5 linked regions of the Homo sapiens genome follow. The protein of the gene in region 2 purifies or fractionates together with the protein of the main gene of each other region. This does not show direct contact. Each region holds a gene or a part of one and is shown on either strand. Other genes may lie near its edges.

Region 1 (3,519 bases), on a different chromosome or scaffold from region 2:
GTCATCCTGGTTCTTGCCTGACCCAGCAGAGCGGCTGGGAAAATACTGGCAAAATTAGTTGAATTTCTGTGGTCAGGAGACTTGGGCTCTCCTGGGAAGGACAGAAGGGAGAAAGGAGAATCAGGGGTAAAAACAGAGGCTTCATCTGTACCCATTTTCCAGATGGGAAAGCTGGGTCCCCGGGGAAGGGGCGGATCTGGGAGAGGAATCCAACTTCCAGGGGCCCAGGTCAGGTATCTCTCTCAGCTCCAGGCTGCAGGCTGGACACAAAATCAGAATTCTCCCACTAGCTTCAGGCATCTTCATGTCTTTATTCCCTCTCCTTAGGAACCCTATTCGGCTGCTGCCAGAGGAGGTTGCATGGAAATAAGTAAGAAACACCAGGCTGGGCACCGTACCTTCAGCCTGTAATCCCAGCACTTTGGGAGGCCAAAGCAGGAGGATTGCTTGAGTCCAGTTCAAGATTAGCTTGGGCAATGGAGCAAAACCCCATCTCTACAAAAAATGCAAAAATTAGCCAAGCGTGGTGGCACATGCCTATAATCTCAACTATTCAGGAGGCTGAGGTGGGAGGATTGCTTGAGCCTGGGAGGTGGAGGCTGCAGTGAGCTGAGACTGTGCCACTGCATTCCAGCCTGGGTGACAAAATGAGACCCTGTCTCAAAAAAAAAAAATCACCATATATTAAGCATGTACTCCTTCCTTCCTTCCTTCCTTCCTTCCTTCTTTTCTCTCTCTCTCTCTTTCTTTCTCTCTCTTTCTTTCTTTCCACACTAGATTCTAAGTGATATTTATGTATTAACTGATTCAGTCCTTAAAACCACCCTAGGGGCAAGTACTATGATCATCTCCATTTTGCAGATGAGGTAGCTGAAGATAAGGAAAGGTGAAGTAACTGGCTCAAGGTCACCTGGCCAGTAACTGAGCCAGAGTTCAGACCAAGCCGTCTCAGCCTGCCCTTGGGCCTCTTTAGTCCTCAGCTTTCTCCTCTGTAAATGGGACAAGGTGGTCACGAGGCTCCATAAGCACCCTTGGGGACAGAGCCTGACTCGAAGGAGGGTTGTGATGTAGGTTTCCCTCCCCCATCAAACCTATTTGGGATGTGATTCATCCTCCTCCCACAGCAGGGTCTCAGTGGGTGGTACTGCTGCCCTAGAGCACGGGGGCAGGGCAGCAAGGCTCCAAGGCCACAAGAGCCCCACCTCCTCCTCTCCCCATTAGGAGGCCCATGGGCAGCCACTGTTCTCTCGGGTCTTAGTTTCTCAACCTTTGCAAGCTCCCTGCAGTCCTGGCTGGGGTGGGGTGGGGCAGGGCTCCAGGCCCCCATCAGCTGTTGCAGTGACAAGCTGTGGCTTCCCCAGGAGCAGGGTGGCCCTGAGTGTCCAGGAAATTGTTCATATTCTGCCCTCCTGCCCATCAGAACTGCTGTCAGGCCCAGAGCCCATGGTTCTCAGGAGGGAGAGGAAGACCACGGGACCCGCACTTAAGCAAGCCTCCAGTCTTTAATGCCATGAGTTGTGTGTCTATCATAGAGGTACTGAGGCCTGCAGCAAAGGCTCACCATACATCTCAGGAGAAAAGCGGGTGGATGCGGGTGTCCGGCCCACACCTAGGGGCCCCTGTCAGAGCAGCGAGGCACATGTGCAGGAACGGGCGCACACATACACTCCCCTTTACCAAGGAGCCAGTCCCAAGGAGCCAGTGGCAGCAGCCAGGGGCGCGAGGGCACTAGGTCACTTACCCGCTCATGAAATCCCCAAAAATGTAGAGGCCGTTCAGGTTGGGGTACTCGCAGCCCCGGTACACGTAGCCCCCTGTGACCGACTTGCCAACCGTGTGCGGGTAGGCGAAAATCGGCAGCAAGTCATCTGCGGGGTGGGAGGGAGAGAAGCTTCGGTGAGCCAGCGGCGGGAAGGTTCATCAGCCAGGAGAATTCCGGAGGGATTCCGCGGGGGTGGGGCGGCCACGGAGGGAGGGGCGTGCCCACAGCAGGGCTGGCGTGCCCACAGCAGGGCTGGCGTGGTGGAAAGCGTGTCTGCAGGGGTGCCAGGTGGGGATGGAGCGAGGAAGAACTCAAGAGCGCTGCTGGGAGGCCTCCAAGGCGCAGGGAGGCTCCGGGTGGAGGCGGGGGCAGTCACCGAAGGAGGCTTTGGCTCACAGCCCGTGGAGTTGGGGTGGGGGCAGATCCAGGGTCAGGGGGTGCCTGGGGTGCGGGTGGTCCCCGAGTGAGGCCCTGCCGCACAGCCCATAGAGTGGGGCCGAGGACAGACTCAGGGTCAGGGATCTCCGGGGGGGGGGGGGTGCGGTCTCCGAGGGAGGCCCTGCGGCACAGCAGGTGGGGTGGGGTGGGGGCGGATTCGGGGCCGGGGTCCCCGGGGCGCGGGCACTCACTGAGAGAGGTGTTGGCGCACAGGCTGCGGTCGTAGCACTCGAACCCTTCGCGCGCGCGCCAGCCATAGTTGCCGCCGCGCTCCACCACGTCCACCTCCTCGAACTTGTTCTGGCCCACGTCGCCGCAGAAGAGGCGCCCGCGGCCAGTGCCCGAGGAGGGGTCGCCACGGTCGAAGGAGCAGCGCCACATGTTGCGCACGCCCAGGGCGTAGACCTCGGGCTGCGCCGCGGGGTCGCCCACGAACGGGTTGTCGGGCGGGATGCCGTAGGGCAGGCCGCGCTCCTTACGGTCCACGTCGATGCGCAGCACCTTGCCCAGCAGCGCCGACCTGCGGGCGGGGTGGGAGAGGGCGCGGCTCGGGGTCGCCCTGAGCCAGGGCTCACGGGCTCCGCGGGGCAGGTGCTGGGGCGCCGGCTGACCGCTGAGCCAGGTGCAGGGTGAGCCTAGGCTGTGGGGCCAGAGACCCTGGGATGCTGTCCGCCTTAACTACTTACAGCCGGGTAACCATTCATTCACTCAACATGCATCCCCCACCTTCCTGTGCGCCAGGCCTGTCCCATGCGTTGGACACAACACATCATCTATTTCGTCTTGTCCTCACAACAGTCGTTTAGGTAGGTGTGTCCTAGTATGATCCCCACTTTACAGATGTGGCAGCGGAGCTCAGAAAGCTCAAATAACATCGCCCAGTTGCCGCACCGCTGGGATCCAGCCCAGACAGCCTGGGCCCAGAAACTCAAGCTCTTTACCACACACTCTGTGGAATCTTGGTGTCCTCAACTGTAATAGTAGAGTGGTCCCGCTCAGACCATTCAGTCCTCCCGGACTGTGGTATAGGGTGAAAATTCCACTAGAAAAAATGACTTGTATTTACAGTTTTCTTCCAGTACTCGGCACTGTGACCAGCACATAGTAGGTGACCATTAAGTGCAGAGTCAGTGAATGAAGGATTGCAATCAAAGCCAAATGCACCAGCGTGCGGGTTGGTGGGGAGAGGGGGAGAGAGCAGAGGGGTGCAGCCCTAAGCTCCAAGCAGCTAAGGAGGATAGCTCATGACAAAAGTGACGCGTGATGGGAAAAATCTGTAATGTGCTTAAAGACAGTGCGGAGAACATGCCCTTCTCAGC
Region 2 (3,519 bases):
TAAAACAGACAGACTTGTGAAGGGAAACATCAAACATGACTTGGGAATAGCTTTACTTTTTTAGCACACTTTTCCCATTGACAAATGCCAATTCTATCACAAAAGTATGCCACAAGTCTGGTTCACTTACTTCTTTTACATATCTGTGGCTGTATTCATAAGCTGTCATTGGTTCTTAGCAACAAAGATTCCTCAGTATCATACACACACTCACACAGATGTTTAACCTAATCAAGCTCCAAGGTAAAATCAAATAGAACATAATTGGCTGACTGGCCTTGAACCTGATAATGGCAGGTGATGCACTGTTTGCATAAAAACCATCAGTATGGTAATCCCAAGTGTCTTTATCAAAGCCTCAATTGTATAGCTAGCTCCTCAGCTTTCTTGGAAGCAAACACCAGAGCTATAACATATACTATTGTCATAAAATCAGGAACAAACAGATAGAAACCATAAATGTAGCAACAATCCCAAGCGTCTTATCTAGTTCCAAGAGCTACTAGGGAGGCGGAGGTTCGAGCCTTTTGCTCACCTCAAAAAGTCTGTCGCATTCCATGATCATGTGCGCTAGCCCCTGAGCTGCTGCCAGATTCTCGTTGAGGTCCTTTTGATCTGGCTTCCCAGTGGCATATTTCTTCTGTATGACTCTGTAATTGAACGTGAGTGTGCTAAGCAGATCCCACACCAACGAGCTTGTCACAATACCAAACTCATCCCTTTTGTTTTCTGTTTATACCCAGATGCTATCCAGATCCCAGGCTTTTGCGTTTCCAAATAAAAACAATGATCACATATCTTAGATATCTGAATCAGGCTAACAGTCTGACAGTTCACAAGGAAAAATCTTGGAAAACTAAAGGGCAGGAAGAACAGCAGGGGACAAAATTAATCTGTTTTTCCAAAGTTTGAAACCCCTTAACTGCAAGCTCCTGTGCTTTGGTCTTAAATATAGCCTTTTAAAAATTGTAAAATACTACTTTGTGTATGTTTTCCTCCTCACTCACACAGACAACATAAAACTCAAGCTTTCTGGATCACAGCTGGCATTCTTCAATGCTAGCTCAATAATTCTATGAATCTGAGCCCCGTGAATTAGGGTGTCTCACAAGATTTTCTGATTATGAAAAGAGTGTTGACAAATCCTGAAGTTGAAATGTAGCATGAGACACATTTTATCTATCTATAATCTATTATCTATCTCTATTATCTACCTATCAATCATCTATTTATCTCTCTTTATCATCTACCATCTATTTATCATCTATCTATTTAGCTGTCATCTATCATCTATGTATCAACTATCTATCAATCTATCATCTACCTATCGTTGATCTATCTACCTACCTATCTATCTATAATCTGTCTACCAATATATCCATTCGTATCTATCTATCCATCCATCCATCCATCCAGTCTTATGAACTGTGGGAATGCCTGCTTTGGGATTACTGTTGTTACTGAGAAAAAAAACCCACCGTGGAGAGCTTTCTTTCTTCAATAAATTAAGATGAAAGAGGGAGGGGGCCAGACACACTGCCAGGTTCATGGGCGTCATCTGATTCTCTTCCACCAAGTTGACGACGTCGTTCAGGAAACACAAGAGCGTCTGCAGGACCTCCCTGTTCTCATCGGCCAGTAGCAGGATGGCAGCCTGCACGGCCTGCAGCCGCTGCTCTTTGGAGACATCTGAGGAAAAGTGGATGCCAGGTCATTGGAGGAGCAGACATAGAAAGAGCCAGCTGGGAAGCACTGTGTAAGCTCCACATTCCTCGTGTGAACACGCACCCAGAGTCATCATCAACAAAAACAACCAGAACAGCAGGAAAGGCACAAAGAAGTCAGTAATTGCTGAGGCCTCGCAGCTCATGGGAGGCAGAGCTGAGTCCCAACCCTTGCAATTGAACTTTGGATCCCACGCTCTCGATGGCCAAGCAGGGTTTAGAAAGGGGCACCACCATCCTGGTTTTCTGTATTCTGAGCAATCAACCCACTCACCTGCTTTCAGAAGGCTTCTGGGTGAAGTTGGTGATTAGGACTCTGTCAACCTGGCATCCCTCTTGCCCATCCTCCCTGACAGACAGCTTGGGAAGCCACTCTCAGGATGCCCAAGGCTCCGTGGGACATGGTTTGAAAACCACTGGGTTAGGGAACAGTAGCCTCGCCTTGCGTTTCTCCACCCCTGCCAGCCAGGCCATGATGCCAGTGCTGCACAATTCACCGGGAGTGGTGTTGAGCTGGTGGGACCTCTGACCTCATTCCTAGAGGGCCAGCTTCTCGAGGGGAAGCCTGTACATCTTCCTTTTTCCTACAAATCTCCCAGGACTTGCTTTGCAGGATGCCTGCTATTGACTTCATGTGGAGACCCAGCGTCACCTGTTCCATAATCTTGGGGTTTATGGAAATGGAGGCTGTGCTTGGAGAAGAAGAACCAGGCAGCCTAAGGTTATGGGGGATGTCTGGCCCTTCTCAGTGCCATTACCCTTGAGGGTGGTCCTTGTGGTAGTGGGTACTGGTTATGCAGGCTTACCAGGGAATTGGTTCCAACAATATGAGGGGAACTAAATGGAAATCACACCAAATGAGTGATAGGTGCTGCCTTTTGCTGCTCCCACCTGTGGCTGTGTTTATTTCATGATCACTTTAGTCCTCTCACTGCGAAAGACACCGTCAGGAGCTTGCTTCTGTCAACACTGTTGTCTTTCTTAAAGTGCCATGTTCTGGAGCAGGGGCCTCCACACGAGGGTGTCTGAATTCTCAAGGGGTGGGGAGGTGTGCTCCTGACAGTCTCTTGAGGTGTGAGAAGAAATCATTAGCACTCCCACGTGTGTTTATCTTTTCTCTTACCCATTAAAAATACTGATTGGGTGTGCTTTATAATGTGCATAGTACATTAGAGTACATCCAGTATATTTATATTACTAAACATAAATACACATTCAGATATTTGCTACTGGCAGGAGTGCATGATAAAAACAAACTCAGAGCTGGCTGTTCCAGAAGGGCTGAGGTGTGACCTTCTGAGGGGGTCCTGGCTGGCCCCAGGCTTTGTGGTCCTGGGGGGCTATCGATGCTGGATTCGCCTGCAGTCTCATGCAGGAGGCATGACGTCACATGCCAGGGCTGACCACACTATGGCCCTGATTAGCAAATCCAAGTTCCTAGAAAAGCCTGAGCATGCCTTCAGTGGTCTGAAACCCGTCTCCACTCCCACCATGTCCATTGTGTACTGGCACAAGATATACCTGGGGTTTACAGAGAAGAGCCGTTTTGTTAAAATTAGAGTGAACCCATTTTCTTACTCTCGCTTAGGGTGGAGGAGAAACAGATGGTACTAATGATCTGAAGCTTGTGAGAGGTGTAACAAGTTTTGCTTGAGCTGCAGAATTGTTTTAAATATGCTGCTCTAGGTAAGGTGTCCAGTGTGTATACATTGTTTAACTTTAGATTACTAAGCTTCTTTTCCATGCCAACATTTTTTCCCAGCCATCATTTTTGAAGAGTCGCCTGTCATCTCTA
Region 3 (3,519 bases), on a different chromosome or scaffold from region 2:
CAAAAAGTGGGCAAGTGACCCACACAGAGCCAATCAGATCCTTCCATGAGAGTTTTACACAGTCCCTGGGAGGGGTTGGCTGGCTGAGGATAATGGAAAGGGGAATGATTTGGGGGTCATCTCTGAAGAGGGAGAGGATGAGGCCAGTGTGTAAGAAGAAGCAGGGAGGAGCGGAGATGGGGAAGCATGGAGAGAAGAAAACGGCCGGAGAGAAAAAAACAGCCCTAGGGATACAGCATGGGCCCCTGGGGGAGCCTTGCCCAGGACTCCTCAGAGCAAGTGTAGGTGTGTTTGACTCCCGCACCCGAGCACGCTCGGCTGGCACAAATCTCTCCCCCCAGGCAGGACAGATCAAGGAGAACTTCATGGAGGAGGGGGCGTTGAAGCCTGTTGTGGGAGGGCCTGCGGGATTCCTCCGGGTAGGTAACCTGGGGAAGGGCAGGCCTGCCAATAGGATAGTCCACGCAGGATCACTGCGGCACCCCTGCGCATACGAACTGGGATCTTGCTGAAGGCATCACACATGGTCTCATCCCCAAAGCGGCCACGAAGGCCAGTTTCCTAGAACCACTTTCCAGCCGAGCTGACTTAGGGGCTTCCTCAAGCACACGGTGGCGAGGGTAGAATGTGGACCAGAGACTGAGAGAGTCCAGCAGGAGAGCTGCTGCCTCTCCACAGCACGCTGCCCATCTGCGTTCTGCCGGTGCTAGGAAGCCCCACGGCAGGGGCCATCGGGCAGCCACCACGCGGCAGCAGCGGCGCTCTGCGGGCCGGACCAACTGTCAGAGGGGGTCACCAGGAATAAGAGGGCAGCAACTGGGAGCCTGCCAGGATTCGAGTTTGCTTTGGTCTGCAAGGATGTGGGAACCTGGGGGGAATCCTTGCTTCTCTCCTGAGCCTCTGAGGCCCTGGAAGGCAGGACCCAGGGTCTGTTTATCTTGGGACCCCTGACCATGGGGCATGTTGTTCTCAGAACAGTGCTCAAAGTGAACTGGGAGGTGGCACACCTCTATGCCTTCTAGAAACACCCACAGCCACTGGACACACCTGAGGTCCCCAGTGAAGGGCTCAGAACAGGTTGAGTCATAGTAGCCCCCCAGGGCACCCCACCCATTGCGGGAGGCAAACAAGGACAGAGGTTCCAGCCGGGCAGAGCAGAGCCAGCTGTGGAGCGAGAGACAGTGAGGCGGGTGGGGGACCACTAGGACAGGGCGTGGCTGGCGTGTAAAGTGCACGCAGGAAGTGGCGGGTGGGAGGCAGGACAGGAGAGCCCAGGCCTAGACACCACTGTCAGCCTGGGGATGCTTGGCGGCTTCTCCAGTCCTGGGAGCAGGCATCACCTGGCCGCGGGTGCCCCCTGGTGGCAGCTTGAAGGAAGGACGGGCAGTGGGTCGCAGCCAGCGGGGACCTACCCCGCAAAACGCACATAAAAGCTGGAATCAGCTTGTTACAGCTGCAGGTCCCTCTCGTCCGATTTGGATAGACCCTCTTGGGACCCACTGCACCAGGGAACCCCAAATGCAGCTCAGCAGCATGGGAGGAGCCCTGTCTGCTGGGGGTGTCTGGGATCTATCTGGGGGCAGGGCCTAGAGAGAAGGTCCTGTGTCCTGCTGACCCAGCTGTGCCAGCCCAGCCCCGGGTCGGGCCTCCATCCTGGTTTTCTAAGCATCCTTTAGTGGCCCCCTGTGATCACCATGCCAGCCCCTTGCCTGAGCTCGGGCTCTGCTGAGAGACCCCTGCGGGCTGGGGGAGCTCCAGGATGTTGGCAACTCTCTCAGAAATCTCCTTCCCTGGACACAATGACTTGGCCCCCCACTTGGATCCAGCCCTGCTTCCAGGGGGCTCCCTCCTGGTCCTGTCTCTGCCATGTCCAGCCCTCCCCTCATCCCACACACCAACCCTGATGGTCCCAGCCCTATGCCCAGAGCCACAGAGAGTCATAGTGCGGCAGCTCTCACATGACCACCACAGTGCCAGCCACCCTCAGAGGTCTGGGAGAGCCCAGACCTGTCATGTTGACTGATGCCATCCACAGGGTGGACAGCCCCCCACCAGGTGATGCCCAAGTCAGGGCTGCTGGCTCTCACTCCACCCTCCTTGCCCACCACACTGGACAGGACTGCGGGGAGGAGGTGACAGTACATGGGCTCCTGACAGGTGGTATTCTGATCTAGCAGCCAGTGTAGTCTTTATCTCCACACTGTGTATCATCTGGAGACCCACTTCTGAATCTGGGCGGCTGGACAAAGAGGCATCCTGTCCTTGAGGAAGCAGCTGTAGGAGACACTGAGAGGCCACCTCTCAGCTTCTGAGATCGAAACTCACAGATGGAGAGTAGGCTTGTCCATTTCAGAATCTTACGCCTGGCAGGACCCTGAGCACAAAGCTGATGTGATTTGGGAGGGCAGAAGAGGGATTTTCCCACCTCCAGAATGGAGGAAGAATCCCAGAGAAGAGACACAGAGGTAAGGACCCACGGGTAGAGGTCAGGTCAGGAGCCCCTGCCACAGCCCCCTTGTCCATGCCCGCCCTGGGCTGAGCCCAGGCTAGGGAGACACAGGAACTCACTTCTGGCACTGGGGCGCCACTTTCCAGGCAGGTGGGGTTGAGAGACGGCTGGACTTGTGGATTGTGACAAGCCCTGGAGGGTGTAGGAGCTCCAAGGTGCCCCTGAGCCTCAGCGGGCCCGAGTGGGGTGTCACCAGGAAGAGAGGGAGACAGTAGTGGTGATGGGAGGAGGGGTGAGTAGACCGATGGTCAAAGCCACAGGGGTGCAGGGCTGTCTCAGGACATACAGGTGTGGATGGATGATGGTGACCGGGTGCTGGGCTATAGCCCTCGCCCCCGACAAGCTGGGAGAGGGGAGCACATCACCGGGGACCCTGAATTAACTAAACATGTTCCCACTACTGCCCATAGGGCAGGCGCCAACGTGGCTGTGAGGTTCAGTGACAGAAGATGAAGAATTTCATGTCCTGCCCCTTGAATCTGAGCGCTGAGAGTTGGACCTGCTCTGGAAAGCGTGGGCTTCACCCAGACACCTGGACCCATTGAGGCTGAGTAGCCCCATGCTGCGGGTCACCGGAATCCCAGCCCAGACCCCTGCAGGGCAGAAACCCTCCCTACGGTGAGGTGAGGTGCGGGCTGAGGTCAGGGCTTACCTGTCGCTCCCGTTCCAGGCACATTCAAACTTGTCGAAAATGCAGTCGTTCTCGTACAGGGAACAGAGCTTGCTCCGAAGGTAGTCATGGACCTGGTGGGATAAGGGATGAGGTGAGTGGACGGGGCGTCCCGACCATCCTGGCCCTTCCACAAGAAGGGTCTCAAAGAGCAGCGAGGGTCTGCATGCCCTGACATGGCCCAGCGCAGACCTGCTCATCTCAGCGAGGGTCTGAATGCTCTGACACAGCCCGACACAGCCCTGCTCATCTCATCGGGAGGCCCATGACCAGGCACACGGCTGACCCCGACCGTGACACAGCCCAATACAGCCCTGCTCATCTTATCGGGGGGCCCACG
Region 4 (3,519 bases), on a different chromosome or scaffold from region 2:
GAAATTCTCCCCTCTCTTTTCTACATTGTATTTTCACTACTAAGTATTACCATTAACATGTTAAAAAAATTCTTTTAAGGAAAAAAAAAACCCAAATATTTTGGCTCTGTTATTTCCCCTTTATTTTATTTTATTTTTATTTTTTTTGAGATGGAGTCTCACTCTGTTGCCCAGGCTGGGGTGCAGTGGCATAATCTTGGCTCACTGCAACCTCTGCTTCCCGGGTTCAAGCAATTCTCCTGCCTCAGCCTCCCTAGTAGCTGGGATTACAGGCGCCTGCCACCACACCTGGCTAATTTTTGTATTTTTAGTAGAGACAGAGTTTCACCATTTCGGCCAGGCTGGTCTTGAACTCCTGACCTCAAGTGATCCACCTACCTCAGCCTCCCAAAGTGCTGGGATTATAGGCATGAGCCACCGCGCCCAACCTATTTTATTCTATTATTTTATTTTATTTTATTTTATTTTTTGAGACAGGGTTTCGCTCTGTCACCCAGGCTAGAGTGCAGTGTGGTGTGATCATGGCTTACTGCAGTCTTGACCTCCCTGGACTCAGATGATCCCCCCACCTCAGCCTCCAGAGTAACTGGGACTACAGGTGCATGACACCATGCCCAGCTAATTTTTGTATTTTTTGGAGAGTTGGGGTTTCACCTTGTTGCCCAGGCTGTTCTTGAACTCCTGGGCTCAAGTGATCAGCCTGCCTCGGCCTCCCAAAGTGTTGGGATTACAGGTAAGAGCCACCACACCCAGCCCCTATTGTTTCTTTTATTAATAGGTATACTTTCCCATGTCTTGTTTTTTTTTGGACCAAAACAACTCCATAGAGTTGTCTCTATGTACCATTTCCAGCTTCTTTCTTTCTAATGTGTCTTTCTCTAAAATACTTTTTATTGCAGTAAAATATATATAACATAAATTTACCATCTTAGCCATTTTTTAAGTGTACAGTTCAGTGTCATTAATTACATTTACAATGTTGTACAACCATCTCCATTATCCTTTTCCAGAACTTTCTCATCACCTAAACAGAATCTCTGTACCCATGAAACGTTAACTCACTAATTCTCCCTTCTGTAACTGTAAATGGGTTCATTGCCCAATGCACACAGCAAGTCAATAAGCTGAGACTCCAGGTTGCAGCAGAGAAAGGTCTAATCATAGGGCCGCCAAATGAGGAGATGGAGGAAAACCTCAAATTCATCTCCCGTAAGAGATGGGGGCTAAGGTTTTTTAAGGGTTTTGAAGTGGGCCGAAGTGTGGCAATTGTTTATTTGTTAAAGAGTACAGGATGAAGTCATGGGACAGGGAGATGAAGAAGCTGTATTCTCTTGCAGATCCCGTTCCTCTGTGGGGGACTTCAAACTGGTTGCTGGAATTCAGGGGTCTGAAAAACATATTAAGCAATCCTTAAACAAAAGCCTTATGATTATAATGTCAGAGATCCTGTTATAGGAAAGATGGGGATAGAAATAAAATCTTAAAGTTTTATGACCCTAATGTCAGAAATCCTATTCTGTAGGAACAATAGGAATGCAAATAGTCAGTATCTAGTGCTATATGACTTTTAGCAACCAGGAAGTGGGCCAAAGTGCGGCCTGATTAATGCTTAATTATAACTATATTTCTGTCCAGAACCTGGCATGCACTTCTTGTGAACCCTGTGGGGGCAGTTTCACTCCCACCCACTAATATCTTCTACTTGCTGTTTTTATGAATTTGCTTATTCTAGGTACCTTATATAAGTGGGTTAATATAATATTTATCCATTTGTGTTAGAGTTAATTCACTTAGCATAGTGTTTTCAGGGTTATTCATGTTGTAGCATATATTAGAATTTCATTCCTTTTTATGGCTAATATTGCATTGTGTATATATGTCATATTTTATCTGTCGATGGTGGGGCTGTTTCCACCTTTTGGCTATTGTGACTAATGCTGCTATGGATATTGATATACAGGTATCTATTTGGTTCTTTGCTTGCAATTCTTTTGGGTATTTAGCTGTAAATAGAATTGCTGAGTCATATGAGTAATTCTATGTTTAAGAAAAGATTATGGTAAAATACATACAAAATTTACCATTTTGGCTGGGCATTGTGGTTGACGCCTGTAATCCCAGCACTTTGAGAGGCCAAGACGGGAGAATTGCCTGAGCCCAGGAGTTTGAGACCAGCCTGGGCAACATGACGAAACTCTGTCTCTGGGGGAAAAATAAAATAAAATAAAATAATAAAAAAATAAAAAATAAATCTTTTTCTTACTATCTTAACAGTATTTAATTATGTTAAGTACATACTTAACACAACTGTTAAGTATGTACACATGGTTGTGCCTCCAAACTCCAGAACTTTTTCATTTTGCAAAACTGAAACTCTGTACCCATTAAACAACTCCTCATTTCTCCATTCCCCCCAACCCCTGGCAACCACTATCCTACTTTATTTCTAAGAGTTTGACTACCCTAGATATCTTATGTAAGTGAAAACATACAGTATTTGTCTTTTTTTGACTGCCTTATTTCACTTAGTCAATCTATGTTTAACTTTTTGAGGACCCACCAGACTGTTTTCCGTAGTGGTTGTGCCATTTTACAGTTCTATCAGCAATATGTAAGGGTTCCAGTTTCTCCATGTGCTCACTGACACTTATTTTTCTTTTTCATGGTAATCATCCTATTTGGTGTGAAAAGTGGTATCTCATTGTGGTTTTGATTTGCATTTTTCTAAACAACTAGTGATATTGAGCATCTTTTCATGTACTTGTTGACCTTTTTTGTATATCTTCTTGGAGAAATGTGTATTTGAATCCTTTGCTCATTTTTGAATTGCATTGTATTTATATATTTTATATATAGGGAATATTTATCCCTTACCAGATATATGATTTGCAAATATTTTCTCACAATTTGTAGTTTGTCTTTTCACTCCCATGATGGTGTCCTTTTTTGCACAGAAATTTTAAATTCTGATTAAGTCAAATTAATTTTTTCTTTTGTTACCTTTTGCTTTTTGTGTCAATCCAAGGAATCATCACCAAATCCAATATCATGAAGATTTTCCACAATGTTTTCTTCTAAGAGTTTTATAGTTTTAGCTCTTACATTTAGGTTATTGATCATTTTAAGTTAATTTTTCAATATCGTATAAAGTAAGGGTCCAATTTCATTCTTTTGCTTGAGGATACCAAATTTTACAAGCACCATTTGTTGAAAAGACTGTCCTTTCCCCATTGAATGGTTTTGGCACCCTTCATGTCACAGTCAATTAACCATGTTAGAGAGGGTTTATCTCTCTCTCTCTCTTTTTTTTTTTTTTTTTTTTTTGAGACAGGGTCTCATTCTGTTACCTAGGCTGGAGTACAGTGGTGCTATCTCACTGCAGCCTTGACCTCCCAGACTCAAGTGATCCTCCCACTTCAGCCTCCCGAGTAGCTGGGACTACAGACACACAGCATCATACCTGGCTAATTTTTGTATTTTTTTTTGTAGAGTTGTGGTTTCACCATGTTAAGGCTGGTG
Region 5 (3,519 bases), 2.7 Mb from region 2:
TACAAGCAAAAAACAAAACAAAACAAAACCTCGAAAAACTATCTCCAACTGGTCACAGGGGAGAGTGCCACCTAGATTCCCAGCTGTGGACTGAAACTGCTAATGAGAAGAAAAAGTAGGGCTGCCTCCCCTCAGTGCCCCACCCTGTTATTCCTTCTGCTTAAGGATGGCACCTCAGAGCCTGCCTATGGCCCTTGGTAAGAAATAGGGCTTCTTACCAAAGGAGTCTTTGACTCAGGCTGACCTGAGTTCAAATCCTGACTCAACCACTAAAACTAATCATGAGCTTGCATGGTATCTAACCCATTAGAGTTTCAATTTATTGAAGTGCAAAATGGGAATCAAACCATCGACTGGAAGAGTAAGAAGTAAAGGAGTTTCAGGCCTAGCATATTGTGGGGTCTTAGTAAGGAATAGGCTACCCCACCCTTCTCCCCACATTCATCTGATTCTGCACACAGAAACCAGGAAATTCCCAATGGTCCCTGATGCCTAAGGGTGTTTGTACTCCACGGAAAATCAATGGATCCCCAAGAGGTCCCAAATGGGACCTGGACTGGAGGATAAGGGCAGCAGAGAGAAATAACTGCAGGAGACTGTAATCACCGCACACGGCAGTGTCTGTTTCTTTTATCTCCAAATGAGAGTTAATTACCATCGCTGTGTGTTTCTGTTAGTCTGAACATTTTTTACTCTGGGGTTAATAACTTCTGTTCTACCTTTAACAAAGACCAAATGGAAGCCTTAAGATTGCAGTAATTGACAAAACAGATTGGGAAAACAGAGAAAATGGCTCCCACTGTAAATGTTAAAGAATAAAATACAATTTTAAAAAGAGTGGAAGAAACCTGATAGCTAATTATGTCTGGATAGGGCACAGCAGTACTATTTTTCCTATTCTCGAAGCGGGCTAGTTCTTTTGCAAGCATAGCACTTAAACATAAGAGAAGCATTTACCCAGTCTCTGCAATGATTTCTGGAGCCACGTATGTTGGGGTGCCACAGACTGTGTACAGGGGGCCGTCTACAATGGTGGCCAGTCCAAAGTCACCCAGCTTCAGTGATTTGCTGCCATCTTGGTGCTCATACACCTAAAACAAAGGTAAAAATCACAATTGTCTGAAAACCAAGAGCTCAAAAGCCCTTTCTTGAAGAAATGAGGAACACTGTGTTTAAATTTAATGTATAGGAGGTAAAAAATAAATTAGGCAATTATGCAAGAATGGATATACATACAAAATAGCTTACTTCCTTTAGATTACTGCAAAACTGGAATCATGGTGAACACCTAACAAATGGAAATTGATTAAATAAATTATAGTACATTCATACAACGAGAGGTTACATGACCTTAAAATGGCGATACAGGTTTATAGTTATTGAATTATGTTTGGGAAATGAGCAGAGCAATTTTCAGATTGGTTTTTATAAAATGTCCATTAAAGAAAAAAAGTACATACAAAAAAAAAAGAAAAAGTCTGAAAGAACACAGTGCCGATGTATCTGTCTCTTGGTGGTAGGATTACAGGTTTTCTTAATCCTTTTGTTTATCTGTCTTTGATGTTGTCTATAATTAAAACTGATTTGCATAATAAAATGAAGTATAGAAAGTCCCTAGTGCAGTGTCTCCGATTTATGAAAATAATCTCTTTGTTTCAATATATTAAGAAAACTTGCCGGGAGCTGTGGCTCACGCCTGTAATCCCAGCACTTTGGGAGGCCAAGGCAGGTGGATCACCTGAGGTCAGGGGTTCAAGACCAGCCTGGCCAATATGGTGAAACCCTGTCTCTACTAAAAATACAAAAAGTAGCTGGGCGTGGTGGCGGGCACCTGTAATCTCAGCTACTCAGGAGGCTGAGGCAAGAGAATCACTTGAACCCGGGAGGTGGAGGTTGCAGTGAGCTGAGATCAAGCCATTGCACTCCAGCCTGGGCAACAAGAGCGAAAATCTGTCTGAAAAAAAAAAAGAAAGAAACTTTAAAAATGCAATTCTTTAGTAACTAAATACAAAAAAACTATACTTATAGTAAAATACTTTATTTTCAGTGCCTCGTATTTTCAACATGATCTATTTACATTTCTTAATAATTGAAAGAGATATTAACATTTCATTTCACCTGTGGCAATTTGGAAAGATTTATCAGGTGCAGAGTCAGCATCCTGTCCAGGTTTCCCTTATTAAGGCAGTAAAAATCTTCTCTCTTTCACCCAACAAATCAAGAAAAGGATGCATGTGACTGTAGGCAAGTATTTATACTCCTTTAATTCCAGCCACGATCAAAACAAATGGAGCTGCTCTAAAAAGTATCCCAAATAACTTATTTTATTTCAAAGAAAAGATGAAAGGGCGTTCAGAATCCTAATTGAGTCCCCTCTGTTGGAATGAATAAGATTAAGAAAAGAAAACCACAGTAAAAGGCTAGTAATTCCAGCAAGGGCAATCTTCACGAATGCCTCAAGGAAGCAGCTAAGTTTTCCATGTACATCAAAATACTTGATCCAGCAAGCCGAGGCTTGCATATTCTCCTGTTCTCACTCTGTGATCATCTGTTACTTGCTGCAGTAGTTTGAATCTTTTGCACAGCAAGGCACATCTCCACACATCAGGGGCACCGCTACTGTTCACACGTCACGTCTGCCTTCCTTTGGAAAAAGTAGATTAACTTTGCGTTTCACTGCAACACAAAATGCAGATGTTTGGCCAGCTAAGCTGCAATATCAGCAATGATCACCTGGATCCAACAGTTTTGGCAGAAGCAGGCAGTCAGATCCACCTATCTGAAAGACTGCATCTTTTCTGAGCAGAAAATATTCTTTTACGTTTTCTCCACACTCATAGCATGGAGTCTTATTCCCAGGAGCTGTTGATCAGGATCAAGTTTGGGCTGCCCTCTGGCAGGTATCCGAAGATTTGTGAGGTCACCTGTGATTGGGTTGTTAGGGCAAAAACAGCCATATGTCCCTCACAGATGTGGCTTTGCCCAGCTGTCATCTGGGACGGACATTTTCTTCCTAACTTAATGAAGCAGCTGTCCAGCCTTGGTCACTTAGAGTTAAGTTAAAAACTTTGAGGCATCACAGCTGCAAAACACAACATCGGCCCCAGCCTAACTGTTCTTAGGCAAAAGAAAACCCTAAGTTGTAGTCTTACCACGTCAGCCATTCTGGTCATCCAAATGACAAGCAAATGTTTTTCATGAAAAGAAATCTGAGATGGAAACATCTAGTAGATGGTCTCGTTGATTTCCGAGGCAGAGCAGAATTGTTTACTTCCTTAATTCCATTTTGTTAACAATAACCTTTCTAAAATGCAAAATAATCTCCTGCTTTGATGTTCTGCTAGGTCCAAACATTCATTCTGTGTGCTTTGTGAGGTGATGCAGATTGTAATTTATTCAACCCACTTGATGCAGGAATTTTGTAGCTTTTTTCTTAAACACAGTATCTACACCACCTAACTGTACTCAAAAGTTTGACAAAAGCAGATGTTGGTGGATTCAGTCATAAGTCCCATTTTA

The links.
Region 1: the proteins of STARD13 (region 2) and HHIPL1 purify together in Homo sapiens (co-immunoprecipitation; one large-scale study listed by IntAct). This does not show direct contact.
Region 3: the proteins of STARD13 (region 2) and PPP2R2C purify together in Homo sapiens (co-immunoprecipitation; one large-scale study listed by IntAct). This does not show direct contact.
Region 4: the proteins of STARD13 (region 2) and TESK2 purify together in Homo sapiens (affinity purification with mass spectrometry, with the first as the bait; one large-scale study listed by BioGRID). This does not show direct contact.
Region 5: the proteins of STARD13 (region 2) and DCLK1 purify together in Homo sapiens (affinity purification with mass spectrometry, with the first as the bait; one large-scale study listed by BioGRID). This does not show direct contact.

Annotation. Positions count from the first base shown.
Region 1 is NC_000014.9:99,658,629-99,662,147, reverse strand, and holds part of HHIPL1 (HHIP-like protein 1 isoform a precursor), read right to left. Parts: intron 2,721-3,519; coding exon 2,392-2,720; intron 1,869-2,391; coding exon 1,742-1,868; intron 1-1,741.
Region 2 is NC_000013.11:33,111,243-33,114,761, forward strand, and holds part of STARD13 (stAR-related lipid transfer protein 13), read right to left. Parts: intron 1,690-3,519; coding exon 1,479-1,689; intron 651-1,478; coding exon 536-650; intron 1-535. UniProt on the Homo sapiens protein: GTPase-activating protein for RhoA, and perhaps for Cdc42. May be involved in regulation of cytoskeletal reorganization, cell proliferation and cell motility. Acts a tumor suppressor in hepatocellular carcinoma cells.
Region 3 is NC_000004.12:6,326,101-6,329,619, forward strand, and holds part of PPP2R2C (protein phosphatase 2, regulatory subunit B, gamma), read right to left. Parts: intron 3,254-3,519; coding exon 3,162-3,253; intron 1-3,161. UniProt on the Homo sapiens protein: The B regulatory subunit might modulate substrate selectivity and catalytic activity, and might also direct the localization of the catalytic enzyme to a particular subcellular compartment.
Region 4 is NC_000001.11:45,453,147-45,456,665, reverse strand, and holds part of TESK2 (dual specificity testis-specific protein kinase 2), read left to right. Parts: intron 1-3,519. UniProt on the Homo sapiens protein: Dual specificity protein kinase activity catalyzing autophosphorylation and phosphorylation of exogenous substrates on both serine/threonine and tyrosine residues. Phosphorylates cofilin at 'Ser-3'. May play an important role in spermatogenesis.
Region 5 is NC_000013.11:35,809,878-35,813,396, forward strand, and holds part of DCLK1 (serine/threonine-protein kinase DCLK1), read right to left. Parts: intron 1,092-3,519; coding exon 958-1,091; intron 1-957.